7 linked regions of the Homo sapiens genome follow. The protein of the gene in region 3 purifies or fractionates together with the protein of the main gene of each other region. This does not show direct contact. Each region holds a gene or a part of one and is shown on either strand. Other genes may lie near its edges.

The links.
Region 1: the proteins of BAG2 (region 3) and AMBRA1 purify together in Homo sapiens (affinity purification with mass spectrometry; 3 studies listed by BioGRID, with this or other methods). This does not show direct contact.
Region 2: the proteins of BAG2 (region 3) and RASAL2 purify together in Homo sapiens (affinity purification with mass spectrometry; 3 studies listed by BioGRID and IntAct, with this or other methods). This does not show direct contact.
Region 4: the proteins of BAG2 (region 3) and HSF2 purify together in Homo sapiens (affinity purification with mass spectrometry; 4 studies listed by BioGRID and IntAct, with this or other methods). This does not show direct contact.
Region 5: the proteins of BAG2 (region 3) and DNAJC13 purify together in Homo sapiens (affinity purification with mass spectrometry; 3 studies listed by BioGRID and IntAct, with this or other methods). This does not show direct contact.
Region 6: the proteins of BAG2 (region 3) and UBAP2 purify together in Homo sapiens (affinity purification with mass spectrometry; 3 studies listed by BioGRID and IntAct, with this or other methods). This does not show direct contact.
Region 7: the proteins of BAG2 (region 3) and DNAJB6 purify together in Homo sapiens (affinity purification with mass spectrometry; 4 studies listed by BioGRID and IntAct, with this or other methods). This does not show direct contact.

Annotation. Positions count from the first base shown.
Region 1 is NC_000011.10:46,398,637-46,402,392, forward strand, and holds part of AMBRA1 (activating molecule in BECN1-regulated autophagy protein 1), read right to left. Parts: intron 1-3,756. UniProt on the Homo sapiens protein: Substrate-recognition component of a DCX (DDB1-CUL4-X-box) E3 ubiquitin-protein ligase complex involved in cell cycle control and autophagy.
Region 2 is NC_000001.11:178,092,523-178,097,383, forward strand, and holds the start of RASAL2 (ras GTPase-activating protein nGAP), read left to right. Parts: upstream 1-1,581; 5' UTR 1,582-1,970; coding exon 1,971-2,172; intron 2,173-4,861. UniProt on the Homo sapiens protein: Inhibitory regulator of the Ras-cyclic AMP pathway.
Region 3 is NC_000006.12:57,185,141-57,189,341, reverse strand, and holds part of BAG2 (BAG family molecular chaperone regulator 2), read right to left. Parts: 3' UTR 1-4,201. UniProt on the Homo sapiens protein: Co-chaperone for HSP70 and HSC70 chaperone proteins. Acts as a nucleotide-exchange factor (NEF) promoting the release of ADP from the HSP70 and HSC70 proteins thereby triggering client/substrate protein release.
Region 4 is NC_000006.12:122,412,662-122,416,862, reverse strand, and holds part of HSF2 (heat shock factor protein 2), read right to left. Parts: coding exon 4,099-4,201; intron 3,339-4,098; coding exon 3,214-3,338; intron 643-3,213; coding exon 567-642; intron 1-566. UniProt on the Homo sapiens protein: DNA-binding protein that specifically binds heat shock promoter elements (HSE) and activates transcription. In higher eukaryotes, HSF is unable to bind to the HSE unless the cells are heat shocked.
Region 5 is NC_000003.12:132,532,237-132,536,437, forward strand, and holds part of DNAJC13 (dnaJ homolog subfamily C member 13), read left to right. Parts: intron 1-4,201.
Region 6 is NC_000009.12:33,940,713-33,944,913, forward strand, and holds part of UBAP2 (ubiquitin-associated protein 2), read right to left. Parts: intron 3,928-4,201; coding exon 3,653-3,927; intron 2,878-3,652; coding exon 2,708-2,877; intron 1,151-2,707; coding exon 937-1,150; intron 1-936. UniProt on the Homo sapiens protein: Recruits the ubiquitination machinery to RNA polymerase II for polyubiquitination, removal and degradation, when the transcription-coupled nucleotide excision repair (TC-NER) machinery fails to resolve DNA damage. May promote the degradation of ANXA2.
Region 7 is NC_000007.14:157,343,093-157,347,293, reverse strand, and holds part of DNAJB6 (dnaJ homolog subfamily B member 6), read right to left. Parts: intron 1-4,201. UniProt on the Homo sapiens protein: Has a stimulatory effect on the ATPase activity of HSP70 in a dose-dependent and time-dependent manner and hence acts as a co-chaperone of HSP70. Plays an indispensable role in the organization of KRT8/KRT18 filaments.

The sequences.
Region 1 (3,756 bases), on a different chromosome or scaffold from region 3:
CCCAGCTAATTTTATATTTTTAGTAGAGACAGGGTTTCACCATGTTAACCAGGATGTTCTTGATCTCCTGATCTCGTGATCTGCCCACCTCAGCCTCCCAAAGTGTTGGGATTACAGGTGTGAGCCACTGCGCCTGGCCTATTTTATTTATTTTTGAGACAGAGTCTTGCTCTGTCACCCAAGCTGGAGTGCAGTGGTGTGATCTTGGCTCACTGCAACCTCCGCCTCCCGGGTTCAAGCAATTATCCTGCCTCAGCCTCCCAAGTAGCTGGGATTACAGGCATGCACCATCATACCTGGCTCATTTTTGTATTTTTAGTAGAGATGGTGTTTCCCCATGTTGGCCAGGCTGGTTTCGAGCTCCTGACCTCAGGTGATCCACCCTCCTCGGCCTCCCAAAGTGCTAGGATTACAGGCGTGAGCCACCACGCCTGGCCATATTTATTTATTTTTTTGAAATGGAGTTTTGTTCTAGTCGCCCAGGCTGGAGTGCAATGATGCGATCTCAGCTCACTGCAACCTCCACTTCCTGGGTTCAAGCCATTCTTCCGCCTCAGCCTCCGAGTAGCTGGGATTACAGGTGCCCGCCACCACACCCAGCTAATTTTTGTATTTTTAGTAGAGACGGGGTTTCACCATGTTAGCCAGGCCAGTCTCGAACTCCTGACCTCAGGTAATCTGCCTGCCTCAGCCTCCCAAAAGGCTGGGATTATAGGCATGAGCCACCGTGCCCAGCCTTTGTTTTTTGAGATGGAGTTTTGCTCTTGTCACTCAGGCTGAAGTGCAGTGGCACAATCTTGGCTCACTGCAACCTCCACCTCCCAGGTTCAAGCGATTCTCCTGCCTCAGCCTCCTGAGTAGCTGGGATTACAGGCTCCCACCACACCTGGCTAATTTTTTGTATTTTTAGTAGAGATGGGGTTCCACCATGTTGGCCAGGCTGCTCTCGACCTCCTGACTTCAGGCGATCCGCCCACCTAGGCCTCCCAAAGTGTTGGGATTACAGGCGTGAGCCACCGTGCCTGGTCAGAAGCTGAGAGTTTTAACTGTTCCTTGGAAGGGCTGTTTCCTTCTCTTCTTTCCCTTTACCCCCCAGTCTTCACAAGCTATTCCCCAGTTATTGTTCTCCTGGGGCTCAATGCCTGATGCCATATTTCCCGGAAAAGAGTCAACTGACCAGCACAGGACCCAGGTCTAGGGAGGGAGAGAAGGATCTGTCCGCCACTCCCTCTGCAGAAATGCCTGAGCATTCCCTTGTGTGGGAACAGAAAAGACTTCGGCTCAAATCTCAGCTGTCACTTGCTTGCTGGGTGACCTTGAAAAAAATCCCTAACATCTACCTTGCACGGTGCTGGAGAGAGAAAAGGAGCTAACGCACAGCCCAGGCACTTGGTCAACGGTGCCTGTTGTGATTAACTTGGGGTCTGCAGCAGTGGAGCTCTATTGCTGTGGGACCTCCCTTCCAGCTTTCTGCTCAGCTCTTGGTAGGGTGAGAACCAGGCCAAGACCGTGGGCAACTATGATCAAGGCTCTGAGGCTGCGAGGGATGGCTCCACTGAACTGCTGATTTGTCTCCATCAGCTACTGTTTGGAATTTTGCAGTTTTGGGGGTTTTGATGGTGAGTTTTCTTTCCTTTTGGGGTACTTGCCAGCAGCTATTTTTATGAGACTTTCTTTGCTCCCCTAACCCCATCCATCCCCTTCTCTCTGCCTGCCTCATTAGAGTTGGATTTCCAGGCCAGCCAGTTTCACAGCTTGGTGGCATCTAAGGCCCCAAGAGATCTCTCACCCTTCTTGTTGGTACTTGGCAGCCTCATGCTTCTAGTTCTTTCTATAGTTTTTTTTTTTTTTTTTTTTTTTTTTTTTTTTTTTTGAGACCAGGTCTCGCTATGTCACCTAAACTGGAGTGCAATGGTACAAACATGGCTCACTGTAGCTTAGCCTCTTGGGTGCAAGTGATCCACCCACCTCAGCCTCCTGAGTAGTAGGGAGTACAGGCAAGCACCACTCCTGGCTAATTTTTTGTACTTTTTGCAGAGACGGTTTCGCCGTGTTGCCCAGGCTGGTCTTGAACTCCTGGGCTCAAGCAATCCTCCTGCCTTGGCCTCCCAAAATGCTGGGATTACATGGGTGAGTCACTGCGCCCAGCCCCAGTCTTAGACGATCTTCCTCAGCATTATGTCCTCTCTTGCTTTTCTGGACAACCCCTGATAAAGCACTGCCCTCCATCCCTCAAGGTGGCTGCCCTTCCCCACTTCCTCCTGGGACACCCGGCTCCAGCTCCCAGGGCAGAAGGAGAGAAAACCTGAAGGGCTCTCAGAGTACTGGGTCAACCCCATCTTCAGGTTTTAAAGCCTTCTAACAGTGGGGCAGAAGGTAAGAAGAAAAAAGTCAACCTACGGCCTTGGTGCCCACAGAGATTCTACCCTGGGAGCCAAGGGCTGCCTGGGGAGGTCCCCTGGGGCCCTCCCTGTGCTCACTGTAGCCCCAATGCTTTCTCAGAACTCTGTGCACTGAAGCCCTCGCAGCATGGTCTGGGGCGTGCTGTGGCTGGCCTGAGGCCTGCTGGCATTGGAGTGCACTGTGCCAGGCGCTGTGCCTAGTGAATTCTCAGCTCTTTTCGAGACAGAGTCTCGCTCTGTCGCCCAGACTGGAGTGCAGTGACATGATCTCAGCTCACTGCAACCTCCACTTCCCGGGTTCATGCAATTCTCCTGCCTCAGCCTCCCGAGTAGCTGGGACTACAGGCATGTGCCACCATACCCAGCTAATTTTTGTATTTTTAGTAGAGACAGTGTTTCATCATGCTGGCCAGGCTGGTATCAGACTCCTGACCTTGTGATCCACCCACTTGGACCTCCCAAAGTTCTGGGAGGCATGAGCCACCGCACCCAGCTCAGCTCTTCTCAAGTAGATTACCAGGGGCAGAACAGGCTGCCTTGGGGCCCTATGGGTGCTGCTGCAGCCAAGCCCCCAGAGAGCCCCGGATGGGCTTTCCCAGGCTCTGCGGGAGGCCCTGCTGCTGGCACTCAAGTCTGAGCCCACTGCTTGCTTGCCTATGGCTCCAGGCCTGGCCACCCCTCTCTATGGCTATGACTGTGTCCTAACTGGGCTTCTTGCTTCCAGTCTCCTCCCCTTCCGTCTAGTCTCCACACTGTTCCTATTACCATCCTAATTCAGCTCTGCTGACTTGAGCTCTGGTTAAGTCTGCACCCTGTTCAAAACCCAGCAGCTGCAAAAGCCCTCACAGTAGTCAAAACTCCTTAGCTTGACATTTGAGGGCTCTCTGGCCAGACCCTTATCATGCTGCAGACCTTCCTGCCCTGTCCCCCACATTCCTGCAGGTACCCGGCAGCCCTGCTCCCTGCCTGCACAGATGGGCATACACTGTGCACACTGTGCCATGCTCTCGTCCCATCTCCTCTGCCACCCACTTCTCTCTGGTCCCCCAGCTAGAAGGGGATGCTCCTTCTCTGGGACCTCACAGTGCTTCACAACTCCCCGTAGCTGTGGCATCTCTCTTCTGGCCTATAAGTTCCTGAAGGTCTTGGACTCAGCTGTATTCTCTTTTCAGCCAAGTCTAACACGTGGGTTTACACTGGGCGTGTATTTGTCAAATACATGTATGTATTAATAAAAGGGCTCCCAGGCTCCTCACAGGGGCTCCAGACTTAAGGATGCTTGGAAAACCGGTCTTGTAACTGCCCATTGTGGGAGAAGCATTTATTTTATTTTATTTTTTTGAGACGGAGTCTT
Region 2 (4,861 bases), on a different chromosome or scaffold from region 3:
ACAAAGTTGAAGTAATATCCATTGAGTCATTGTGGAACTATCTGTACTTGTGGTTGATTAGCCAGGTAAGCTGGTTTTTCCTCAGTTTCCTCACCTGTTAAACAAGAGGCAGAATGATGTTCTCTCTAAAACACTTCTTGCTTTGAAATACTATTACTCTAAATAAGACTTTGGAGAAACTCACAAAATACATCCTTGTTAACTCTCAATAAGCCCAAACAATATTCCAGGACCCCACAAAACCAGAAAACTAACAGGACCCCTTGTAGACCAGTCTCTTTGTGCAACGTAGGGAGAAAGGGCGGGGGGGACTAAAGAACCTCCCAAAAGGTATTAAAAATAGCAACATGTAATTATGAAAAATCTTGTTCCACATTAGGTAGCCACATTCAAGAAAAACTGTTGGAGATCTACTATGTCCAAGGCACGGTTTAAGTTATTACTGTTCAATTTTGAAATTATTATTGTTAACTTGTCAGTAATTTCTTAAACCTAAACTGGTGAAACTCTCCTTGGGTGGACATAAAAGTAAAGCCATGGCCAAGGAGGGAGACAGTCTACAAATAAACCAAAAATAAAATACAAGTGACATCATTAAAGGAAAAAAGCCAACACACTGCACAAAGATCAAAGACAAAACAGAGAAACATGTTTGGTTAATACTGGGCTTTGAGTATTTCATGTGCCTGAGAGGCCCGTCCGTCCATCCACACCACACTTCTTCACCATGCTGTTGCAAACCAATGACAAGTTCAGCTTCAGCGCGGACAGGGCGCAGGGCGCAGACCCTGTGCATATCCCAGAATCCCGGACCCACTGCCACTCCACTCTGGGAAGGAAGAAGGCGCTCCCCCTTGGGTGACTGTAAGATAAAGCAGCTTCTTCGATCTCTTTGTCCAATAAGAAAGAAACGTTGGCCCATAAAGAAAGAAAGAAACAAATAAATAGGAAAGGTGTGAGAAGGAAGGGAAGCTCCTTTCTTTTCTGTTTAAATTTCCCGCACCCTTTTACCTCCCCGCCTTCTCAAACGGTCTTTACTTTGAGCAGCAGAGACCCGGACCGCTCAATACCCGGCTATCCCTGGGAGGGTACTTGGAAAGTAGGCGGGACAGGCCGGATGAATAATTCGGTGTCCGACTTTTCCTGCCTGCGGCGCAGTCCCTCCCCGGCTTCGTTACTCGAGTGCACACGCGGCCGGGCTCTCGGCCCTCGATTGCTTCAGCCTATCACCCTGGGATGCCGCCTGCCGCTGCCGCCGCCGCCGCCGCCGCCACCGCCACCGCCACCGCCACCGCCACCGCCGTGGCTGCCGGGTTTGTGGGATCCGCCGCGGAGCAGGAGCCAGAGCTGTGGCCGGAGCTGTGGCCTGAGAGTCAGGGGGCGGGCAGGCTCATTCCAGAAGTGGGGGCCGAGGACAGGCGGGCTAGAACCCGGGGCCACCGCCCCCTACCCCTCCTCAGGCTGAGGGAACGGGCACTCGGAGCTTCTGAGGCGGCGGCGGCGGGAGCCGGTCAGAGGGGGCGGCCCCTGGCGGCGACGCCCCCAAGCCCAGCCCTGCCCGGCCCCGCTCCATCCCCAGCCAGAGCCTGGTCTGACCGCGAGAGACGCCGGCGGGGCTGAAGAAGGCGGCTCCGAGGAGGTGGGAGGGCGAGCCTCCCCTCCCGGGTTCTTCTGCGTCCTCTCCCGGGAGGGACCCACACACACCTGAGCCCGGACCCACCCTTGGTCGGGGCCACGCTGGATCCTCCTCCCGGCCTGGGTCCCGCCCGCCGACTGCAGGTGGGCTGCATCGCCCGAGCCTCGGGCAGTGGGCGACGGGGAAGGAGGTGAGAGGTGTCCGCGCCGGCTGCCGCTCGGGTCCCTGCCCTCGCTGCGCGCTCTCCTCCTCCCCTTACCGCAGGCAGGGCGCGGAGCCGCGCGCCAGCCCGCCCCGAAGCCGCCGCCTCGTCCCCCTCCCGCCTCGGGGCACCATGGAGCTCTCTCCGTCGTCCGGAGGAGCCGCGGAGGCGCTGTCCTGGCCGGAGATGTTCCCGGCGCTGGAGTCCGACTCGCCGCTGCCCCCGGAGGACCTGGACGCGGTTGTCCCAGTCAGTGGAGCCGTCGCCGGTGGCATGTTGGATCGGATCCTTCTGGAGTCCGTGTGCCAGCAACAGAGCTGGGTCCGGGTGTACGGTAAGGACCACAGGCCGTCTTAGAGGCTGGTGTTTCCTATTTTTGCTTGGGCTGAAATTCATTCCCTAAGTCACAGGCTCATTCCCAGTCCTCATCCGTGCTAGGTCAGTTTCCCACATCCCTTTTTGTTCTGGGGGTGCATTTCTGACAAGTTTCTTCAGACTATCACTTGGGCAGGGATGTCACTCAGTATGGTCTTTGGACCTCTTCAGACACCTGCAGTAAGTTTAATGCGGGAGTTGGGCTATCCAAGACGTAATTCTTAGGCGATTACTTCAAGGGAACAGCCAGGCAATCAATCTTCAAGAAGGTATGATGGAAAAACTCCATGAAACCAAGTGAATGGATTTTCGTCTCTTTTTATTGTTGAATGAGGCAAGACTGGAAACCAAGATATTATGAAAAAGCAGAGGATAAGCTAATGAATGAAAAAAATGCAAACTATGTATTTGGTGGGAGCAAGACTAATCTATAACCTCTGCCTGAACCTCACTCTCTCTAAAAGCAACCACTTATTCCAACGGGTGTGGATTGTTTCAGATTACACTATTGTTTCTGAATCTCGTTGTAAAGTGACTGGGTTGCCACTCAGCAGGTTAAAAGTGATGAACACACTAAAACTTTCCCTTTCTGCATTCCTGGTAACCACCTCTTTAATTAAAACTGAATGATGAGATTCTATTAGGGTGAGCCTTGTGGCAGCACTAAAACCATGCTGGTTTTGAAAACTCATAGCTTAAGGATTTATAGCCTGGCATTCAGGACTGAGCTGTGGCTTTCCAAAATATTGAAACGGCAAGATGTTTATCGCCTAGCTCACGTGACTGCAGAAGACATTAGTAACGTGGCTGAGTATAAGATGGCAAATTTGAAGCACCTGGGATCAAACACAATGTTAAGATGTTATCCTGCAGTCTTGTGCATCTAAGCCTGTAGTGATCAAGTACCTTATGTTTTTTTCTTTCATCTTTCTGAACAGGGTATATGCTTACTATTCAAGAGTGACCAAGACTTAGGTTTTTTTCTGTGTAGTTCAGTTGATTTGAAGACTTAATGTCCATCGCAAAGATCATAGAACTAGGAGTCCAGAGATCTCAGTTCTTGTCTCAGTTCTACCACTAAATGGCTATGGGATTTGGGGCAGATCGAGTCACATTTTTGGCTTGTGATTCCTCATCTGTAAAGTGAGTGGATTGGATTAAATCATCACTAGTGACCCTTTTAATCATAAAAATCCAGGAATTCTTCTTATAACCAGTTCTTAAGGATTTGTGTACCACTTTGTATTTTGCTGGCTGTTTCTTGATGTTACTCTACGTACCGGAAGATTTAAAGCAAAGGAGTGGGAGACGATGCAAGGTCACCCAGTTTGTTCTCAGCAAATTAGATTAAAAACTTTGGTGCCTGATTTTCCGTCTGCCTGCTAAATCCCACTTAGCTGGTCATTTAGAACAAAGGTTGGTGAGAATCTGAAAGTGCATATGAATTAGAGTATATTGTAGTTACAACGTTTTCCCATTCTATCATCTTTCTCTCCTTACACACTTCTTTGGCATACTGTTTATTTGTGTGATGTTAGAAATAGGGCCATGCTATTCTAAGAATACATGTATATGATAATTCGGTATTTCAGTATCCAAAACAATCTGGGTTCTCTGGACCTAGTGTTAACTATCGTTCTTCATTTGTAAGGACATAAAAGTCTACAAATGTATGTTGTTTTGTAGTCCATTCCTAGGGGTTGATTTGTGAAATATATATTGTATATTTTGTGTGTGTGTGTGTGTGTGTGTAAGAGAGAGAGAGAGTGAGAGCAAGTTTACATTATGTTTTTTTTCTTTCGTCCTTCTGAACAGGATATATGTTTATTGTTCAAGAGTGACCACGACTTAGAAGTTTTCTTTCTGCGTGGTTCAATTGATGTCAAGACTTCATATCAGACATCACAGAAATGCATGGTATGTATATGTGTGTGACACACACATATACATACCATGCCTTGCATTTTTGTGACCAATTGCAGACTTACCACTGCATTGTAACTTTTTTTGTTTTCTCTATCAATTAACCAGAAGTTGTTTTTATTTATTGTTTAGTATTGCTACTTTCCTTCCTCTGAGGCAGCTCATCCTGGATACTATTTTGTTGTCTTTAGTTTATGTAAATATTTCAGAACTATTGGAATGACTCTTGGCTATGTCCTTAGCTAGTTTTAAGTTGCCTATTGTATGAACAGGGTGTATGTTTGAAAACTTTGAAGTAAAAACTTTGAAATAAAAGTAATAGAATGTAGAAAAACAATTTGGAGAATACAGAATTTTTGTTTTTCTTGTTTCTTGTCTGTGTGTTCAAAACCTTCGTTGTCTTGGATCACCTAGGTTCTTCTCACAATTTAAAGAGACTTTGATGAGTGTAGTCTAACATGTTTCAGGGAAATCTACAAATTGGGAACCTAGTCTAGAGGATACAACTAGAAGCTTAGAGTATTGGTTTCATTCTGGCTTTGCCACAAGTTGGTTGTCTAATTCTGGGCAGGTAGTTTTAACTCATGGCCTCTAGGTTTCAGCATAAAAGTGGAATCTGGAGTAATTGGTATCTGTGGTCCCTTTTAGCTTTAAAGTTGTCTGATTCTGTGGCTTGGCCCATTATTTTACCTGCAGGTTGGCCTATAATCTTTATCCTGGCTCTT
Region 3 (4,201 bases):
ATGCCCTGCAACTCTAAACCATCCTTTTGTTTACACATTTTTGTATGGTATTTTAAGATTATCAATCACTTCAACATTTCTATAACCTTGTTTGTATAGCACTTTCTCAAGAGCTGTCAGTCCCACATACAGAATCATTTCTTTTACAAAATGATTTAATATGTAATCATGTGTCAGGACATAAATTTTGTCACTTGGGACAGTAGCTTTCCAGCTAAGATAATTGCGTGAACTCTGTTAAAACTGATTATCACTCATCAATGGCTTTATTTTTAACCTATAAATAACCCCTTTCAATATACCTGGTTTTTACAGCATTGCAAAATCTGTAAAAATAACTTTTATTGGAAAATGTCATGAAGTCATTTTTCATTATTTGTACTAAACAATGTTTTATGTACTCCTTTTGTGTTTTATCTTTTGTTTTTCCATCTGTACTCCCCTCATCCTCCTAATGTTGAGAAAATCAAATTTCCTGGGTGTGTCCTTGTTAAGTGATCAAAAGTAAATGTTCTCTTTGCCATTTTAGATGGAAAAATAAAAAAAATTAAAAAGTAAATTTTTGCTTTTCATTATATTGAAATGATCTGGCATTATCTATTTCACAGTAATGTAAAATGCTTATTTTTATGTCACCAGTTGTCACCACTCCCATTGCTGATAGTGACATAGGTTTTGGGGGCAAAATTCAGTTCCTAACAAACAGTGGATACTGCTAATGAGTCATCTTTTCTACTCTCTTCAATTTTCTACTCTCTACTCTCCTCTTTAATTTTTGCACAAAATAATACTTTGCAACAAATAGTCTTTTGTCTTTATTGGCAGAAAAATCACTTGTTATATGTGTTCTAGTTAGTTCTTTTTCATGTTAGCTGTGTGGCTAAAAGCGTGTTACCTTTCTATATTTAAAAAAAGTAATCTCTGAGGATAGTTACAGTTCCTGTAATATAATTTTATGTACCTAGTTTTATCTTTTTTTAAATAAGAACTGAAGAGAGAGCTTTGTTACATATTTGAATTTTTAATTTGCACTGCTGTATTTTAAACCTAACCATAATTAGTCATTTAAAATAATTAAGTAGGCCTGAAAGTCAGCCATGTTAATTTCTCAATTTAATCAATTCTTAAAGCCTTCAAAAATTGACATTTTTTTTCCAAGACCCTTCATTCTCTTAAATAACTTTAATTTTATGAAACCATGTATACTAAAGAAAAACTTTTCCAAGATTCCAGGTGATTGTGCATTTGTGCTCTAATCTACTTTTTTAACATTACGGCTAATCTTTTGCGTAGACATATCGCTGTGGAATAACTGCCATATTTCAGAGTTCCTCAGGTTTCCTTTTCCTTTTCCAGTCTCTGTCTATGAATTAAATAGTATATAGAATGACCCATATAAGGCAATATAGTTAAATAAAACCAGGTTAAATGATTTCCTTTGTATCTGCCCAAAGTTGATAGCACACGTTACTTTTTCAAAATAAAGCTAAAACTACCAAAAAGAGGATGAAAACTTTTTCCTCATTATGGAGTGAAGTTCTAGGTGGTTGCTTTAGAAGTTGGCAGTGCAGTGCTCAGAAGGAACTCTCAATAAATAACATGTACTCCTTGGACCTGTGAGTTTTAGGAAACTGGACCTTTTCTGAAGACCTTAGAATAGGGAGTTGGCCTTAGGACCTAATGTCCCAACTTAGTGTTGGACCCTTTTAATATAAGATATTGTTAATTATTAGCATACTTTTCAAAACCTTTGAAATAGTTACTGCTAACCTGATAAAATGTTCCCATTAATCTATCATTAGTCTGTTTCTCTGAAAACAAAATGCATTGATGAGGTGAAAGCTTGTTCCACATGGCACCTACCTAATGAACAGGACTTACTCAGTTTTTAACTGTTAAGAATGTCACATGTACTATTGTCACTCCTTAGGTTTTCAGCTATAAAACATGTAAGTCTCTCATCATACAGATGAATTCATTTGCTAACAAAATATTTAAAACCCGCAGTAGACTCTGAAATATCCAGTCATCAAACTCCTGGCTAACTGGATGATTTGGCTATAATAATCTTTATTATTATTATTTTCATCTGTCTCTCGAAATATCTACAGTAGGATGTTAGTAAATGGTCTTTTAAAAGCAAAAAATTGGGGATAAAAGGAAAACTGAATTCCTTCTATATTTTTATTACTAATAAATAATGCTTTTGTAAATTTGAATGGAAAACCACTTGTATGTATTGCTATTTGGTTGCAGTTACACTCTGGAGCTTAATTTAAAACACTACTCTAAAAATTTCATGAAGGATGAATTCCAATAATCAGAAAATAAATGCATTTCAAAGCTAAAATTTTGTGTGATATGTATGATTGTATCAACAGTGTGGATCTAAATAGTAAAATATATAATGCAACTTCTTTAAAGATCAAAGCAACCTAAAATTATTTCATATTTCAGATACTCTGCCAATATTTAATACTCTCATTTTATTGAAAGTAGTGCTAACAAGGAATGGCAGGAGGGCTACCCTAAAATTATGTATTATATGCTAGGAATGGTAGAGAATTGAGATACAGCAAAACATACTCTATATCCACTTATAGTCTATATAAAAGACAATAGTTTAAATGAGGGTAAAAATGTGACTCAGGAGATTCATCATCATTTGAAAATAAATTATACTCCCATTCTTATAAATAAAAATACATGTTAAGAACCAACCCATTGGCCAAGCGTGGTGGCTCATGCCTGTAATCCCTGTACTTTGGGAGGCCAAGGCAGGCAGATCACAAGGTCAGGAGTTTGAGACCAGCCTGGCCAATATGGTGAAACCCCATGTCTACTAAAAATACAAAAATTTAGCCGGGCGTGGTGGTGGGCGCCTGTAGTCCCAACTACTAGGGAGGCTGAGGCAGGAGAATCGCTTGAACCCGGGAGGTGGAGGTTGCAGTGAGCTGAGATCACACCACTGCACTCCAGCCTGGGCAACAGAGCAAGACTCCATCTCAGAAAAGAAAAAATGAAACCTCATGAAGTAAATGAAACTATAGAAACTGCCTCCATAGCATATATTCAACACCAAACGTCTACAAAATGTTTGTTCTCTTCCCTTCACAGTCTCTTTTCCCTAACTCATATACTCCATAGTGTTCCTTGCTACAGTGGATATGTCTTCTACTTGTCAGACAGCCTGGGTGACAGAGCAAGACTCCAAAACAAAAAACAAAAAAACAAAAAACCACACTGGAGATTCCCTGCCCTTTAGATGTGGCTCTAGGTACAGAATGCTGGAGACACTGTAAACCAGGGACCCCAAGCAGCTTGGAAATGTGGATCATAGCTCTTCAAGTCTGTGATCAGAAATCAATGACCTCCATTAAAAACTCCATTGCAAAAAAATGGGAAAAATAATGCTAAGAATACCAAGGTCAAGGAGGCAGAGCCAGAATAATTTGTGTAGAAAAAGTCCTGGACTGATGTGGAAGCCATGGGAAGCAGGGAGCAGTAGTATTTCCCAGAGTGGAAGGGATTTACGGATGCTGACAATACTTGAGAACCTGAAGAAAACATGACTATCCATTTCTTAATTTTCAAAAAGCTGGTCAAGAAAAAAATGATGCACACAAAAAATCATCTCACAGTCTGATGACAGCAAATCAGTCTGCTAACAAACCAAGTGGCTCTGCCATAGATAGAATTAATGTTTCCCATGAAATGCAAAGATTTAAATAAGGCAGAGTTGGAGCTGGCAAAGGAAGTAACATGAATGTCTTCAGATTGTAACTGCTTTTTATAAAGAGACTAACTTGGCATTTTTGTAGAGAAAATGAAGTTTGATATTGCTTGCATTGAGAGATATATACATACATAAAGTCAGTTTGGATCTTGATTTGGTTTTTCAGTGTGAAGAATACCTACATTCAAATAAAAATTGATGTGTTCATTTCAAAATAGTATCCAGGGAAGTTGTTGTGGTTTTTGTATATCAATAGGACTAGTTACTTTGAACAAATAAGTGTTCTCTAGTTGCTTCACACTTTATCAGATAAAAGAAGAATCAACACACTGGTCAACCTTTTTAGTAAACAAAATGCAAACTAGGTATTAATGCTCAGTGCTGGAAATATTTCAGTGAAATAGCTATATTTTAATTACTGAAAAAAGTATAAATTGCTGTAACCTTTATACAAAAAAAGTTTAA
Region 4 (4,201 bases), about 65 Mb from region 3:
GAGGGATTCCAACTCCTCTATTAAATTTTCAGCTCAGATACTAAAATCTAAAATTCATTTTACAACACTATGTTAACTGCTTTTCTCCACAGACTAATAACAGCATACATTGAGAAATCATTTTCTGAACTCATAATTTGGTCAACTGATTTGAAAATATTTGTCATTTATCTTCTGAGACCTTAACTATGCCTTTTATAATAAAAACCAACAAAAAAAACCAGTAAGGCTATGTTTTCTAATTTTAAAAGAAATTGGTAGTGTATTCATTATGCTCATAAAAATAAAGTATTTCAAAATTGTTATATTAGGCAAAAGATCATTTACTAAAAGCTACTGAGACATTATCTGCGAGTATGGAATAACCATCTTTAGCTAGTGAGAAATTTTTTATTAAAAATGTGTAACACTTGGCTTAATTTCATTTCATTTTTTACTTCTATCTGTGCATCCAATATGTAAGAAACTAAGATCAATCACAGACACTCAATAAAGACCTTTTTGGGTCACAAACAGTACTCATTAAACAAATGCAAATTATGGTCCTGGGGAAAAGAGCTTCTTACCTTTCGAATAACTTGTTGCTGTTGTGCATGCTTTGCTCGTAATTCTGACACCTCCTTCCAAAGGGACTCATTCTCACTATGTTATAATTTATTAAGCAACAAAACAAAAAAAAAATCAATCAAAAAACCAGACCATAGTATCTTTAATTAAGAATACCAGACAACTGAACTACACTTGTTTTTACTATATGTATTTATGAGACCAAGAAAACTTTGGTTCAATTACATAGGAATGACAACTACCTTGACACAACTCCTGAATCATTCTTTTTTTAAAAAAAAGGTGTAGCTTTGCTCTGTCGCCCAGGCTGAAGTGCAGTGGTACGATCTCGGCTCATTGCAACCTTCACCTCCAGGGTTCAAGCAATTCTCGTGCCTCAGCTTCCTAAGTAGCTGGGATTACAGGCATGTGCCACCACAACCAGCTAATTTTTTTTGTATTTTTAGTAGAAACGGGGTTTTGCCATGTTGGCCAGGCTGATCTCAAACTCCTGACCTCAGGTGATCCACCCACCTCGGCCTCCCAAAGTGCTGCGATTACAGGCATGAGCCACCGCACCCAGCACCAGAATCATTCCTTCCTAAGTGTAGTATCTGCTACTCATGACAATAGATACACAGAAACTTAAGACATATGCCTACATCAATATAGTAGTTGGCAATTTACTACTTTTGACAATCTGGCTCATTATTTTTTGCTTAAAAAAAAATAAGCTAATCTTTCAACTGTGGTTACCAAGTGAATTCAGGCCTTCCTAATCACCTTAGGAAATAAAGGGTAGTGATATATACCCAGCACTTACTATACTCTAAGCACTATGCTAGACATTTTATGTGTATTACTTATTTAAAATTTCTCTAAAAACCACCAAGAAATAAGTCATCATCTCTATTTTATAGATGAGGACACTGAGGTACAGAGAATTGAGGGGAACTGCTCAAGATCATACAAATAATTTGGTAAGTGTTGAAATCAAACTAAAGTCTGTCAGATTCTAAAACTATCTTAAGATCTATCTCAAACAACAGCATATGTAAACCACTAAAATGTTATTCTGAAAAAGCATATCCAATAATAAACTAATAACTTGCCAAATATGAATAGCTTCTTCTTCGTTCACCTTTTTTAATTGAAACTGCATTATGTTGTTAAATGTTCGCAGCACGGAGAATGCTGAATACCTATTAAATGCTTTAATTTTCCATCTTTTGTTATTCTCCACAAGTCATCTTCTTTAATCCAAACTAATATAAAAGGAACTGGAGATTTACATATAAGGGTATACCAAAGGAGATTTTAATATTTACTGAATAACTACTGTATTTTTCTGATTCAAATTAAAAAATGTTGTTATCTGCTTACTAAATAAAGATAAGTAGGGCTGGGTGCGGTGGCTCGTGCCTGTAATTCCAGCACTTTGAAAGGCCGATGTGGGCGGATCACTTGAGGTCAGGAGTTTGAGAACAGCCTGGCCAACACAGTGAAACCCCATCTCTACTAAAAATACAAAAATTAGCTGGCACATGCCTGTAATCCCAGCTACTAGGGAGGCTGAGGCACAAGAATCGCTTGAACCGGCAGGCGGAGATTGCAGTGAGGTAAGATCAAGTCACTGCACTCCAGACTGGGTAACAGAGTGAGACTGTCTCAAAACAAAAACAAACAAACAAAAAGATAAGGAGAAGAAAGTTCCCTCTAAGGTACAAAAAATGATTTGGGGATCACTTTCTTTAAAGGCTGAAACTGTGGTCCCAAGGAACTGGGTCAAAGAGCAGCTAGTATACACAAGATACATACAGTAAACAAGTTGTTAAATACACAAGAAGAGAAAGCCTAAAGCTTATTTAAAAAAGAAATCAAAGTTATAGGTTCCTCTTTTAATGAAGATATTTGAGTTATGATTAACTAAAGTAACGTCTCACATCTGATATGGAAGAGAGAATATGTAAAGTAACCACTCTTAAGCCCTTGGCACCTATTAGGATACAGAAAAATTCCAGCTACTTACTAAGAAGAGTAATACACTATCTACTCTATACACAAGTTATTAGTATGGCAAGTTACAATAATGGTAACCAAGAAATGTAGTAAAATAAAACGAAGCATCTTTCTGTAGATAAAAGCTCTGAATAACACTTTTCCAAGTCTATACGAAATAAGTATCAAGCATGGCAACTCTCCTGCATCGTTTTCCGATTTTTTTGTGTCCTACTTTTTCCTAAGAGTCCACACAAAGAAATCTTAAGAGACAGCCATTAAACAAAGGATGGGTAACATACAGGGTTTTTATGTCGTATGCCCTCATTGTCTATGAGCACCATATGAGCTAACCTAAATAGAATCATATTTCCTACATCATCTTAAAGACCTACTGTTTATTGCTAAGACTTATACATCAAACTGTTTTGATACGCTTAGGTTTATATCTTCTTCTGACTATCATAATTAAAACAATATTAGAGTAAAGTCAGTGGCCACAAATCAAAGTAAAGGGAACCAATACTTGCAGAAAAATGACCTTTGATCTTGGCTTCAACAAAGTGATCTGAGTACTTACAATAAAACATCAGACAACCTCCAAACTCAACACACATAGACACATACCCAATTCCCAGATTAAAATTATATTTGGAAATAACACTTTACCTTTTTAATTCAGAAAGCCTGGACTCAATAGTTTCCTGTTTTATCTGAACCTTCTGAGCACTACTTATAATTTTTGTTAAATCTTCCTGACGAATTTTATTTTCTTCTGGTTTTGAAGATGAAACCTTTGAAAAAGTAAATTTAGAAAATCAAAGAAACAGTAAACACCCATGATTGTAATTCAAAGCTTCCCTATTAGAAGAGGTTTTCGTAGCCTGTTCAGGAAGTGAGATCTGGTTCCAAAAGCCCGGGATGAAATGCTAGGGAAAGAATAAACTTCAGAGCTCAATGGGAGAGAACGCAAGGAATAATCTACTTAAAAAAAATTTTTTTTTAATGTTAAAAAGTTTCCGCAAGCAGGAATATCTTAGAGTCTTTTATTCTCCCCTTATGCCAAGCTCCTTGCAATTTCCCCCAAGCCTCTTTATTACCACATTCCACATTTAATTAAATTTATGCAGTAAAAGGTTCATGCTAGGCCATTTTCTTTCATGGTCCACCCCTTTTACAGATTTAGTAAAATATCTTATTTTACCAAAAGATATTATGCATTAAAAAATATATTACTGAATGTATTTCTGAATGCCTACTATGTGGGCATATTTATATTATTAGAAGAGACTTATTGTAGGTACTGGATGTACAATTACAAACTATAGAAAAAGTCTTCCAGGGAGCTCATATTCTAGCAGGAACTTAAACTTTTTTTTTTTTTTAAGCTAACTTAGGAAAAAAATACAGGGAAACAAGTAAAACTTTATTATCCTAATTCATCCCAACAAGGAACAGTTGTGCATTTCTGTACTTTCAACAGCTGAAATAAAAATCTTGGCCAAGCACACTCCAGGTCAATACCCTAATTAGCTCACGTTCACAATAGCTCACCTTCCTTTTAATGTTCTCCAACAAGTCATCCTGTCCTTGTTTGAAGTAAGGATGCTGAAATTCTACAGGACCATCTCTTTCTTGCTTTACAATTCCAGAGTCG
Region 5 (4,201 bases), on a different chromosome or scaffold from region 3:
CTTGATTGCTAGTATAGAAGTTTATAAGATCATGAAGACTTTATCTTGAATATTCAAAATTAGAGGCTTTGGAGGAAATTTTACCTGGTTTTAATTTTAAACTTGGTGTGACACTTTTTTTTCTTCACCATAACCACTTTAATATTGACACTCCTAAAGTTGGAGCAGAGTCCTAAAATTTATAAACATGCAGTGCTTTGGCTGCAGGTCATGTCCTGTTCAGAACAGTGTCATAGGTTTTTATTTTAACTTTTCCATCCCCTGTCCCTCATATCTATGGAGAAAAATACCTAGACTGTGTTCTCAGTCTGTCCCATATCTCTCTTCAGATTTGGTGTTAAAATTATAGCTTCTAAGTAGGAGTTTGTTCTTATAGGCAGTATAAAAACTTTACCTCTTTAGCCTATGTCCAAAAGTTCACATACCACGTTTTCATGGCATTACATTCATTACTTTTTGTATAAGGATGGTATGATTGAAAAAAAAATCTGCCTTATTTTTATTTTATTATTTATTTTTTTGAGACAGTCTTGCTCTCTCACCCAGGCTGGAGTGCAGTGGTGCGACCTCAGCTCACTGCAACCTCTGCTCCCTGGATTCAAGTGATTCTCCTGCCTCAGCTTCCCAAGTAGCTGGCATTATAGGCTTGCACCACCACACCCAGCTAATTTTTGTAATTATTATTATTATTATTATTATTTTAGTAGAGACGGAATTTTGCCATGTTAGCTATGCTGGTCTCAAACTCCTGACCTCAGGTGATCCACCCACCTCGGCCTCCCAAAGTGCTGGGATTACAGGCGTGAGACACCACACCTGGCTTTTTTTTTTTTTTTTGCGACGGAGTCTGGCTCTGTCACCCAGGCTGGAGTGCAATGGTGCAATCTTGGCTCACTGCAACCTCTGCCTCCCAGGTTCAAGCCATTCTCCTGCCTCAGCTTCCCAAGTACTTGGGATGATAGGCATGTACCACCATGCCCAGCTAATTTTTGTATTTTTAGTAGAGGCTGGTCTCAAACTCCTGACTTCAGGTGATCTGCCCACTTCGGCTTCCCAAAGCATTGGGATTACAGGCGTGAGCCAGCATGCCCGCCCTCTTTTTTTTTTTTTTTTTTTTGAGACAGAGTCTTGGTCTGTTGCCCAGGCTGGAGTACTACAGCATGAGCTCAGCTCACCGCAACCTTTGCCTCCCGGGTTCAAACGATTCTCCTGCCTTAGCCTCACAAGTAGCTGAGATTACAGGTGTGCACCACCATTCCCAGCTAATTTTTGTATTTTTAGTAGAGACGGGGTTTTGCTGTGTTGGCCAGGCTGGTCTCGGACTCCTGACCTCAAATGATCCACCCGCCTCAAATGATCCACCCGCCTGGTACTCCCAAAGTCCTGGGATTACAGGTGTGAGCCACTGCACCTGGTCAGCCTTATTTTTCTTAACTAAGAGTAAATTGGCCCTGAAGAATAGTAATGTGTATATTATAAGCTTCTCTACAGGAAAGCCTCTTCTAATTCTTCTGTTCAGTCTTATCTATCATTCTTTGACTTAACTTGATGAAATAAAAAACATATGTCCTTGACTTACAGAGTGTGAACCAAAAGGTCTGTGGTTAGAATCCAGAAGAAATAGGGGTTTATCTTCAGAAACCTGGACTTCATTTGGTCCTCACCCCCATCCACATGCTTTAGTAACTATAGGGAAAAGGTATAGGCAGTAAAAAGCTTCTTGTCTGTGCCTTTCCTTTTACTTGGATCCATGCGGTGGCTTCTGAATGAGATATGAAAAGTGGCTGTGAAGGGGTTAGAAGAAGGTTAGGGAAAAAGAAAAGTTGGGGTATACAAATTTCTTCCCATCCCTGAGCCGGCTTAAGGGACAGCAAGTTCTGTACAGGTCTGGCCAAATGGGGAGATGGTATAAAACCCAACCAGGAAGGGGCATGGAGATAATGAGTCTTCCAGAAGGCCATTACTGAAGCCTGCAGACGTGTCCATGTAGAACAGTCTGGATAAGCTGTAAGCATTGTTGACCCCAGAATTGTGAAATTCTGAGCATGTTATCAATCTGGGATGCTCTTTTTTAGCGATGTCAGTTGCTGGAAATTTTTTCATCAGCTCTAGTCTGTCCTATTTGAAAGGACCAACTTGCCAGGTGCAATGGCTCATGTCTGTAATCCCAGCAATTTTGGAGGCCAAGGTGGGCGGACTGCTTGAGTCCAGGAGTTCCAGACCAGCGTGGGCAACACGGCAAGACCCCGTCTCTATAAAAAAATACAAAAATTTAGCCAGGCATGTTGGTGCATGCCTGTAGTCCCACCTACTCGGGAGGCTCTCTTGAGCCTAGGAGGTGGAGGTCACAGGTGAGCTGAGCTCTCACCACCACACTCCAGCCTGGGCAATAGAGCAAGACCTTGTCTCAAAAAAAATTAAGTTACATTAAAAATGAAAGAACTATTTCAAGAATTAAAGCTTCTAACTCTTGCTGTCTGCCTGAAATTGTAGTATATAAGATGTCAGCCCTACATCCTCTAACTACAGATGATGTAGGCAAATTAAGAGATAAATTAGGTAAATTTACTGCCAGTTGGATTGATGTGTGCTCATTGCTTGAGTTGCCAAATGTTTTTTGTGTTTGAGCTTTTCATTGATGTATTGTGTATCATGTGTTTGATAAAAGGGGCATGTAGTTCTAATAATGATAAAATCCCATGATGTGGAACTCCAGGAATTTATAGTGTTGTGTTGAATTGGAATTTCATTTAGTTAAAATGTGCCCCGTGCTACTCCCAAACTTCAGAAGATACAGATTGTACCCAGCCCCTCTGTAATCATTGAAATCAAGGTTGCTGTGACAACACACATCACCAACCCTTTCTTCTAACTGATATCTTTAGGTGAGTTTGGCAGGTTAGGTGGATTTTGTTTAGGACATGGGGAAAGACAAAGGAGTTAATTACTACTTCAAAGTAAGATAAAAATGACCAAAACTACGTTTTCTTCTCTCTGGCTGCTGAGTAAATGTCATTCAGTCACATGCCCAAGATTTGGGGTAAAAATTTTAAAGTCCTAGGTAGGATTACTCAATCTTGATAAATTTAAATGAGACTGCCTATTTCCATAGGTTCTCTAGCCTGGCATATTTTGTTTTATGATAAATGCTTATTTAAAGGTGCCTCAGTGGAATTTTTCCTGTGATGCAGATAAATTGTGGTTACTCATTATCCAGGGCCCTTGATCACTTAGCCATTTATTAGGTTCTAGAACAGCTTGGTGCTGATGGTCTCAGAGCCTCATAAAAAATAATTTCAGCAGTGAAAATCCTCAAATTACCTAACCTAGAAAATCAGTAGCAAAAGAAGGAACAACAGGAAAAGGAACAGAGGCCAGGGTGAAGATGCTTCTAGGAGCCAGAATTGGAGATGAACTTTTCACATATACATTTCATCGTGGTAGCCAATTCAGTTTTGTGGGATTCTCTGTAAATTTTCCATCTTTTCTCATTTCTCTGAAGTCCAGCAGCCTTGTGCAATCTTGCCACATGCCCATTCCTGGCAGCCCCTGCTCTTCCCATCTTTCTCTGAAGAACACAACTGCCCTATTCTGTGCAAATGACCAGGCAGCACCTTTTAGCCCCAAGAAACCAGACACATCCTCAAGGAGAGGCCAGGGTCCTGGGGAGAGCATCTCGGATTTCATTTGTAGAACTATCCGGGAATTGATTTTGATTTGCCTTTCCTAAAGAGGCAAATGATGGTACTAAAATTTGGTTTCTTCCTTCTAAGCCCATCATTTCACCATTTAGATTTTAGCTCAGAGGTTCCCACATTTTCTCAGTTCACAGTGCCCTTAATAGCTCAGTAATTTTTTCATCCGTCCCCAAGCCAAAAGAAATACCTAATAATTTAGTTTATGAAGTAATTGCAAGACAACTTGAAAGTAGTTGTTTGTATGGTGGTCAGCAGATGGCGCTGTGTTTCAAATTTAAAATACCCAGCAGTTAGCTGGATGATGTGGCAGGCAACTGTAGTCCACATGGACAGGCCGAATCCGCTACTCAGTAGGCTGGGGTGGGAAGATCACTTGAGCCTAGGAGTTCAAGGCCTGGATAGGGGAGTTGCTTGAGCCCAGGAGTTCAAGGCAACATAGTGAGACCCCCATCTGTTAAATACACACACACACAGAGGGGCAAAGGGAATAAATAAATATCCAG
Region 6 (4,201 bases), on a different chromosome or scaffold from region 3:
AGGCTGCAGTGTGCTGTGATCGCGCCACTGGACTCTAACCTGGGTGACAAAGCAAGAACCTGTACTCCCCCAAAAAACAAACAATCCACAGAATTGCTCACACTGAATGCTCACATATTAATTTTTAGCATTTCTTATCAATAAAGTATCTTTAATTAAGATATCCACATTGTAACTTTTATATGCACTAGGAAACCAAAAAATTAGCGCAACTTTCTTTATTGCAGTGGTATAAAACAACCTGCAGTATCTCCAAGGTATGCCTGTAGTGTCATCCATATTATTTTAATTTCCTGGGACAGAATGATGTTCAAGTATTACTAGTGTGACATGAAATGTGTATACTTGTTCTTTTTTAAGTTTCTTTCTAAGATTCTCAGGAGATATTGGTACATCTCAACTTAACAGAAAGCAATACAACTGGCAATGACCATCAGATATGCAGTTAGCAAGAATCTAGAAGGGTAAAACTTTAAAACTATATCAAAAATAGATCTGGTTCCTTTATCTATAGTCCAGTATTATTAACAAAAACTAGGTAGAAAATACATAATTTTAACACAAAAATACCTAACAGTGATGAAGAAGCAAATACATTCAAAGCAAATGGGGCAATCAGAGAGAAAGCAGTACATGAAATATTCAGAGATATTTCAGACAATGTAGAAGTACCCAGTACTACAGCCAAAGTGCTCATACTACACGCATGCTTGGTTTTCTCCACAAAGTGTATGAACCTGCAGATCTATCCACACACTCAAGAGCATGGGTGCTAGAGATGCCCACTATAAACAAACTCAATGAACTATAAGGATTCTACTCAAAAGGTTAGTCAATTTGTAAAATAAAATCATATCCAAGAAGCATAATTTAACCAAACATTAATTTCCAAATAAGACGGACATCTTCTGAGAAAAAAACTAAAATACCACTTACCATGATGGTTCCTGGAGCTGACTCTGATGAACTCACAGGGCTTTGGTATGGGATCCTGTTATGCACAGAACTCTGGTCATAAGAGGAAGACATTGCTACTGGACTAGCAGAATTCAGTGATGAGCTTGTCAGACTGCAGGAGGTAATGACGGAAGTTGTATATGTGGAGTTCTGTACTGCACTGGTCATTGATAAAGATGTATTCAAAGGCTCACTGAAAAGAGTCAAAAATATTCAACATAATTTTGTTACTTTAAATAGCTTCATAAAAAAAAAAAAACATAAACAGCTTCACGAGATGCAACTACTGCATCAATTTATTATCCCAAATGAGACCCACCTAATTTAACTGAGAGATAGGGGGACATCTTTAAGAATACTTAGGCTGCGTGCGGTGGCTCACGCCTGTAATCCCAGCACTTTGAGAGGCAGAGGTGGGCGGATCCGGAGGTCAGGAGATCGAGACCATCCTTGCCAACATGGTGAAACCCCGTCTCTACTAAAAATACAAAAATTAGCAGGGCGTGGCAGTGGGCACCTGTAATCCCAGCCACTCTGGAGGCTGAGAAAGGAGAATCACTTGAACTCGGGAGGCAGAGGTTGCAGTGAACCAAGATCGCGCCACTGCACTCCAGCCTGGCGACAGAGCAAGACTCTGTCTAGAAAAAAAGAAAAAAAATAAGAAGATTCTTTAAGGAATCCAGGTGTTTGAGACCATCTTTAAAAAGGAAACTTAAACAAATATCAGGTTTTGCCTCTGGAATGTGAAAAAACTAAAACAACAACAACAACAAAGTCAGCCAGGCCGGTGGCTCATGCCTGTAATCCCAGCACTTTGGGAGGCTGATGCAGGCAGATTCATTGAGCTCCAGAGTTTGAGGCCAGTCTGGGCAACATGACGAAACCCTGTCTCTACAAAACATATTTAAAAATTAGCTGGGCATGGTGGTGCACGCCTGTAATCCCAGATACTCAGGAGTCTGAGGCAGGAGGATCATTTGAGCCTGGGAGGCAGAGGTTGCAGCGAGCCAAGCATGCTGCTGCACTCCAGCCTGGACAACAGAGCAAGACCCTATCTCAAAAAAAAAAAAAAGAAAAGAAAAGAAAACTAAAATCTGAGATTTTGTATTTATAAAATATTCCACTGAAGGAAAATGACTGCTGCAAACATGTGGAGAAATTAGATCCCTCATAGACTACTGGTAGGAATGTCAAATGCTACAGCCACAGTGGAAACAGTATGGGAGTTTCCTGAATGGTTAAGTTACCATATGACTCAGCAACTCTACTCCTGGGATATACATCCCAAAGAACTGAAAGCATGCAAAACTTGAAACCAAATGTCCATAGCAGCATCATTCACTATAGTCAAAAAGAGCAAACAACCCAAATGTCCACCAACTAATGAATGAATAAAATGTGGTATTATCAACACAATGAAATATTTGGCAATAAAAATGATACATTAAACATGGGTGTACCTCGAAAACTTACACTAAGTGAAAGATCAGACATAAAAGGCCACATATTCCAAGATTCCAGTTATATGAAATGTCCAGGTAGGCAAATCCAGAGACAGATTATTGGTTGCTAAGGGGCAGGGCAATGAAGAAACTGAGACTGTCTGCTACAGGTATGGGGTTTCTTATGGAGATGATGGAAGGTCTGGATAAACACTGAGGATAGCTATTACCACAGGATGTATTCTTTTCCACCAGTTGATCTCTCTTAGGGTCTATTTTGCTTCATAACAAAGGACTAAATTCAGTACCTTAAAGACTTCGAATACAAGCTGATGGGAATCTGATTACTATTTTCACTGCTTGGAGCTGATCCAAATTCAGAGAGAGAAGGTTCTGACCCAAATTCCAGAGCCCCAAACTGCACATTTAATCCTGTGACATCTGCTGAACCAGGCATTTCCACTGCAGAAGCTGGGATCTGAAAAAGCAAAGCTGTCGTGTCAGGAACAGAGGTCACAGATTCCAGGTCACAAAGGCCTATAACAGAGCCAAACAAGCATTTAGGTTCCCAGGCAATACTGGCAAGAAGAAGGAGTGAGAAACAAGGAGAAAATAGGCTAAGACTTTTCTAAAAAGAGAAAGAAAAAAAACAAGCTAAGAAAAATTAAAAGTTGGCTGGGCATGGTGGCTCATGCCTGTAATCCCAGGACTTTGGGAGGCCAAGACAGGAGGATCATTTGCACCCAGGAGTTCAAGACCAGCCTGGACAACACGGCGAGACCCTGTCTCATTTAAAAAAAAAAAGGAGAAATTAAAAGTTAAACAGGAATGGTTGGCATTAATATCACCACCTGCATCTAAGAGCAATGCGGGGGAGTTGTGATGGTGGGTGGGAAGTGAACACTGAGCTGACTACTCTATTTTTGGGGACTCACCAATGATGAAAGTATCACCTGGTCAAGGAACCATGCATCCTCCAACTATGGGATACAGCAAAACCCTCAAGAACAACAGTTCTCTGAGCCAGATCTTCAAATCTGTACTTGAAATAAGGATCTGTGGCTCTCAGCACAAACCCATTCCCTCTAATACTAGTCTGGTCACTCAGAAATGGCCATATCCTTATTATGCAATCAATAAGCTATGTGCTTGAAAAACACTGTACCCCAGTTTCCAAAACTTAGTATCCCACTAGAGCTGAATGTAAAAATAATTCCAGCTTTAGGACGGTGACTTCATGATGAAATGCCCACCTTAGAAGCTGGGGGTATCCGCCGCTTAGCAAGTTTGATGTGTTTGGGCTGTGGCTGGTGGACAGACACAGAGATATTTTCAATGGTCGTGCTGGGAAGCTGCAAAAGCTTGTTCACAGTGGAGGGACTGTCTCCAGGTGTTGATTCTCGAAGTTTTGCCTGGGAAGGAAAGGACTCCAAACCAGGAGGAGGAACAGTGACTGCCTGGCTCTGGTGCTGTTGTCGCTGGCTCAACTGGCTAAGAACTGGGGATGGCTCAGGTTGAGATTTGAAGTCTAAAAAAAGTAAGCAGCAATTAATGAGGCATAATGGCTTCACAATGTTCTTCAATAGAACATGAAGTGTTCTATTACCACCAATTTCTCCAAATCATTTCCAGTTGAATTTCTTAGGTTTTACACACACTATGTGTAACACTTCATTTATGATAAACGGGAAAAGTTCCTAAATGGGTACACACCTTGTTTCCTATCCAGAGAGATTTGGTTTATGTTTAAGCATAGGGAGTGATGAACTCGTGAGAACAATATTATGGTGCTATACACACCT
Region 7 (4,201 bases), on a different chromosome or scaffold from region 3:
CTATGGGACATTCTCTCACCAGTACTTGAAATCTCAAAATTACCTTTTTAGTTTTCATCAAATGCCAGTAAGACTAACAAATTTAGAATATAAATTAAATACAAATACGCATTACAGAAACAACAAAATGAAAATAGCTGGCCGGGCGCGGTGGCTCATGCCTGTAATCCCAGCACTTTGGGAGGCCGAGGCAGGCGAATCACGAGGTCAGGAGATCAAGACCATCCTAGCTAACACGGTGAAACCCCGTCTCTACTAAAAATAGAAAAAATTAGCCGGGCGTGGTGGCGGGCGCCTGTAGTCTCAGCTACTTGGCAGGCTGAGGCAGGAGAACGGTGTGAACCCGAGAGGTGGAGCTTGCAGTGCGCCGAGATCGCACCACTGCACTGCAGCCTGGGCGACAGAGCAAGACTCCATCTCAAGAAAACAAGAAAAAAAAGAAAATAGCTGAAGGTCTAGAAAGAGAAATCCACGTGTCTCCAAGGAAACCTGCAGAGCTGGCTGAAGTGCTGATGCTGCAACAATCCCCACTGTTTGCTGCAAGCTCACTCCTTACTGCTTCAGTCATCACTGATGTAAGACACAATTTAAAATTTGACAAACTCCATGAAAGGTTACCTGCATTCAAATTTTTTTATTAACCTCAGAATTTCAAGGCTACCTATACATTTCTATCAGTATTTCCCTATAGAAGTATTTTTGGTAACACTATCTTTTTTTTCCTCAGACCTCTCAAAAACAGTGTTTAAAAAAAACTGATAAAACTATATATTAAATATCCAACTGTGTATTAGATGATAAAGCAGCCTGAAGCTGTAGAAATACTAATGCATTCCAAAACAATTTTAAGCAAAAAGTTGCCTAATCAAGATATAAAACTAGGTACCAATTAGCATTATTTGATACATACTTGGACGATTTCCCTAGTCACAGAGAAACTAAGTTGTATCTTTAACTTTTTTTTTTTTTTTTTTTTTACTACTCCTTGCAGAGCAGGGCTACCCCATAGGCAGTGTGCCCGGAGTAGCCTAATATCATTTAAGTGTAAAATACATGGATTCATTTCTTAAAAGACACCATTTGTGGCAATAAAACATTTTAACTGGCCTTCATCTCCCTAAGGTTGGCCCTGAATCCTTCTGGCCCGCCCAGCACTGTGAGGATGAGCACAGAGGACAAAGCTCCTCTACTTCCCTCTTCTCCTGGCCCGTGTGTTCAATGCACATTACAGAAAACAGGTGATCCCAGAAAAATGTGGGCCCTCAGGAGGACTGGAAGGCACACTCAAGCTGCCTTCCCTGCCCAGCGAGAGCCTGGACTCCAGCCCTCCACCCTACAGAAGCTCAGCCAGGAAAAACCAGCTTCCCTCACCAAGAAACCAGTGCATCACCTGCATTTTAAAATAATATACTAAATCAAAAGAAGTAATTTCTACAGCAGATCACTCACATCAGAGCTCTACAAGCATAGGTGTCCATTAGAACCCCACTTGGCAAAAACCTTTTTAAAACCATGCTGCTCAAAAGACTCCATAAGCCAAATGCAGCTATTTAAATCTGAAGTCATTAAAATTATACACAATTTAAAATTTGGCCCCTCAGCAATCTTTGTTTGGATATGACCCCCAAAAGCACAAGGAACAAAAGCCGAAACAGACAAGTGGGATTACATCACACTGAAAAGCTTCTAGACAGCAAAGACACAGGAGTGAAACAACCTTGGAAATGTGCAGAAGGATCACTTGAGCCCAAGAGCTTGAGACCAGCCTGGGCAACACAGTAAGACACCATCTCTACAAAAAGATAAAAAAAATTAGCTGAGTGGGGTGGCACATGCCTGTACTCCCAGCTATGCAGGAGGCTGAAATGGCAGGATCACTTGAGCGCAAGAGATCAAGGATGCTGTGAGCCATGTCATGTCACTGCACTCCAACTTGGACAAGAGACAGGGCAAGGCCCTGTCTCAGAAAAAAACAAAATATATAAAAAATAAAAATTTTAAGCCAGGCGCAGTGGCTCACGCCTGTAATCCCAGCACTTTGGGAGGCTGAGGCGGGTGGATCACCTGAGGTCAGGAATTCAAGACCAGTCTGGACAACATGGTGAAATCCTGTCTCTACAAAAAATACAAAAACTAGCCAGGTGTGGTGGCGGGCGCCTGTAATCCCAGTTACTTGGGAGGCTGAGGCAGGAGAATCACTTGAACCTGGAAGGCAGAGGTTGCAGTGAGCCGAGACCACTCCATTGCACTCTAGCCTGGGCAACAAGGGCGAAACTTCATCTCAAAAAATAAAATAAATAAAAATAAACAAAAAACTTTAAAGTTAAAAATGATAAAATAAAAGTGACAGTGCTGTAAAGTAGCACTTTAAAAGAAATCACAGCTGGGTACAGTAGCTCATGCCTGTAATCCTAACACTTTGGCAGGCTGAGGCAGGGGGATCACTTCAGCTCAGGAGTTCAAGACCACGCTGAGTAACACAGCAAAATCTTGTCTCTACGAAATATAAAAACTCAGTAGGGTGTGGCAGTGTGCACCTGTAGTCCCAGCTACTGGAAGTGGCTGAGGCAGGAAAATCACTTGAGCCCAGGCAGTCGATGCTAGTGAGACGTGAACGCACCAATGCCCTCCAGCCTACGTAACGGAGCAAGACCCTGTCACAAAAATAATAAATTTTTTTTTAAATAAAAAATAAAAAAACAAATAATTTCAGGCTGGAAGGGAATTTGCGTAGAGCAGGAAGATATTCTCTAACTACAAAATTAACTTTTTTTTTTTTTTGAGTTTGAGTCTCACTCTGTTGCCCAGGCTGGAGTGCAGCAGCACAATCTCAGCTCACTGCAACCTCCACCTCCCTGGTTCCAGCGATTCTCCTGCATCAGCCTCCCGAGTACCTGGGACTACAGGTGTGTCCCACAATGCCTGGCTATTTTTTTTTTTTTTTGAGACGGAGTCTCACTCTGTCACCCAGGCAGAGTGCAGTAGAGTGCAGTAGAGGGATCTCGGCTCACTGCAAGCTCCGCCTCCCGCGTTCACGCCATTCTCCTGCCTCAGCCTGCTAAGTAGCTGAGACTACAGGCACCTGTCACCACGCCCAGCTGATTTTTGTATTGTTTTAGTAGAGATGGGGTTTCACCATGCTAGCCAGGATGGTCTCAAACTCCTGACCTTGTGATCTGACCACCTTGGCCTCCCAAAGTACTGGGATTACAGGTGTGAGCCACCACACCCGGCCCATAATTAACATTTCTAATAACAATTATGAAACTTCTTTAAACTATTAACTAGGTCCTACTGTCTATTAAGGAAGCCATAGAAAACTTTTCAATTAAGAAATTAAGAAAAAATATTTCTTAGGAAAACTCGGTTTGTTAATTTCTGCAATTTCCAAAAGCAATACATCTAAATCAAGTTTAAAAAAACGAAAAATCTCTATTAAAACCATGAAAAAAATTAGCCTAATCGCCATTAATCAAAAATAACCTTCTCCAATAAATTCAATGACCTCTAAGTTTAGGACTTTTAAAAAAACACGTCACATAAAGATTAGGCGTGGGTAGCTCATGCGTATAATCCCAGCACTTTGGGAGGCCATGGCAGGTGGATCACCTGGGGTCAGGAGTTTGAGAACAGCATGGCCAACGTGGTGAAACCCCGTCTCTACTAAAAATACAAAACCCAGTCAGACGTGGTGGCGCCTGTAGTTCCAGGTGAGGCAGGAGAACTGCTTGAACCCGGGAGAGTTTGCAGTGAGCTGAGATCACACCACAGCACTCCAGCCGGGGCAACAGAGCAAGACTCCATCTCAAAAAAAAATAGTGGTTTCTAAATTCATCTGAGGCCAGGTGAGGTGGCTCACGCCTGTAATCCCAGCACTTTGGAGGGCCGAGGCACGCAGATCACCTGAGGTGTTCAAGACCAGCCCGGCCAACATGGCAAACCCCTTTCTCTACTAAAAATACAAAAATTAGCCAGGCATGGTGGTGAGCGCCTGTAGTCCCAGCTACTCGGCAGCCTGAGGCAGGAGAATTGCTTGAACCTGGGAGGTGCAGGCGCAGTGAGCCAAGATAGTGCCACTGCACTCCTGCCTGAGCAACAGAGCAAGACTCTGTCTTAAAAAAAAAAAAAAAATTACCTGGGTGTGGTGGTGCACATCTGTAATCCCAGCTACTCAGAAAGAAGGCTGAAGCACAAGAATTGC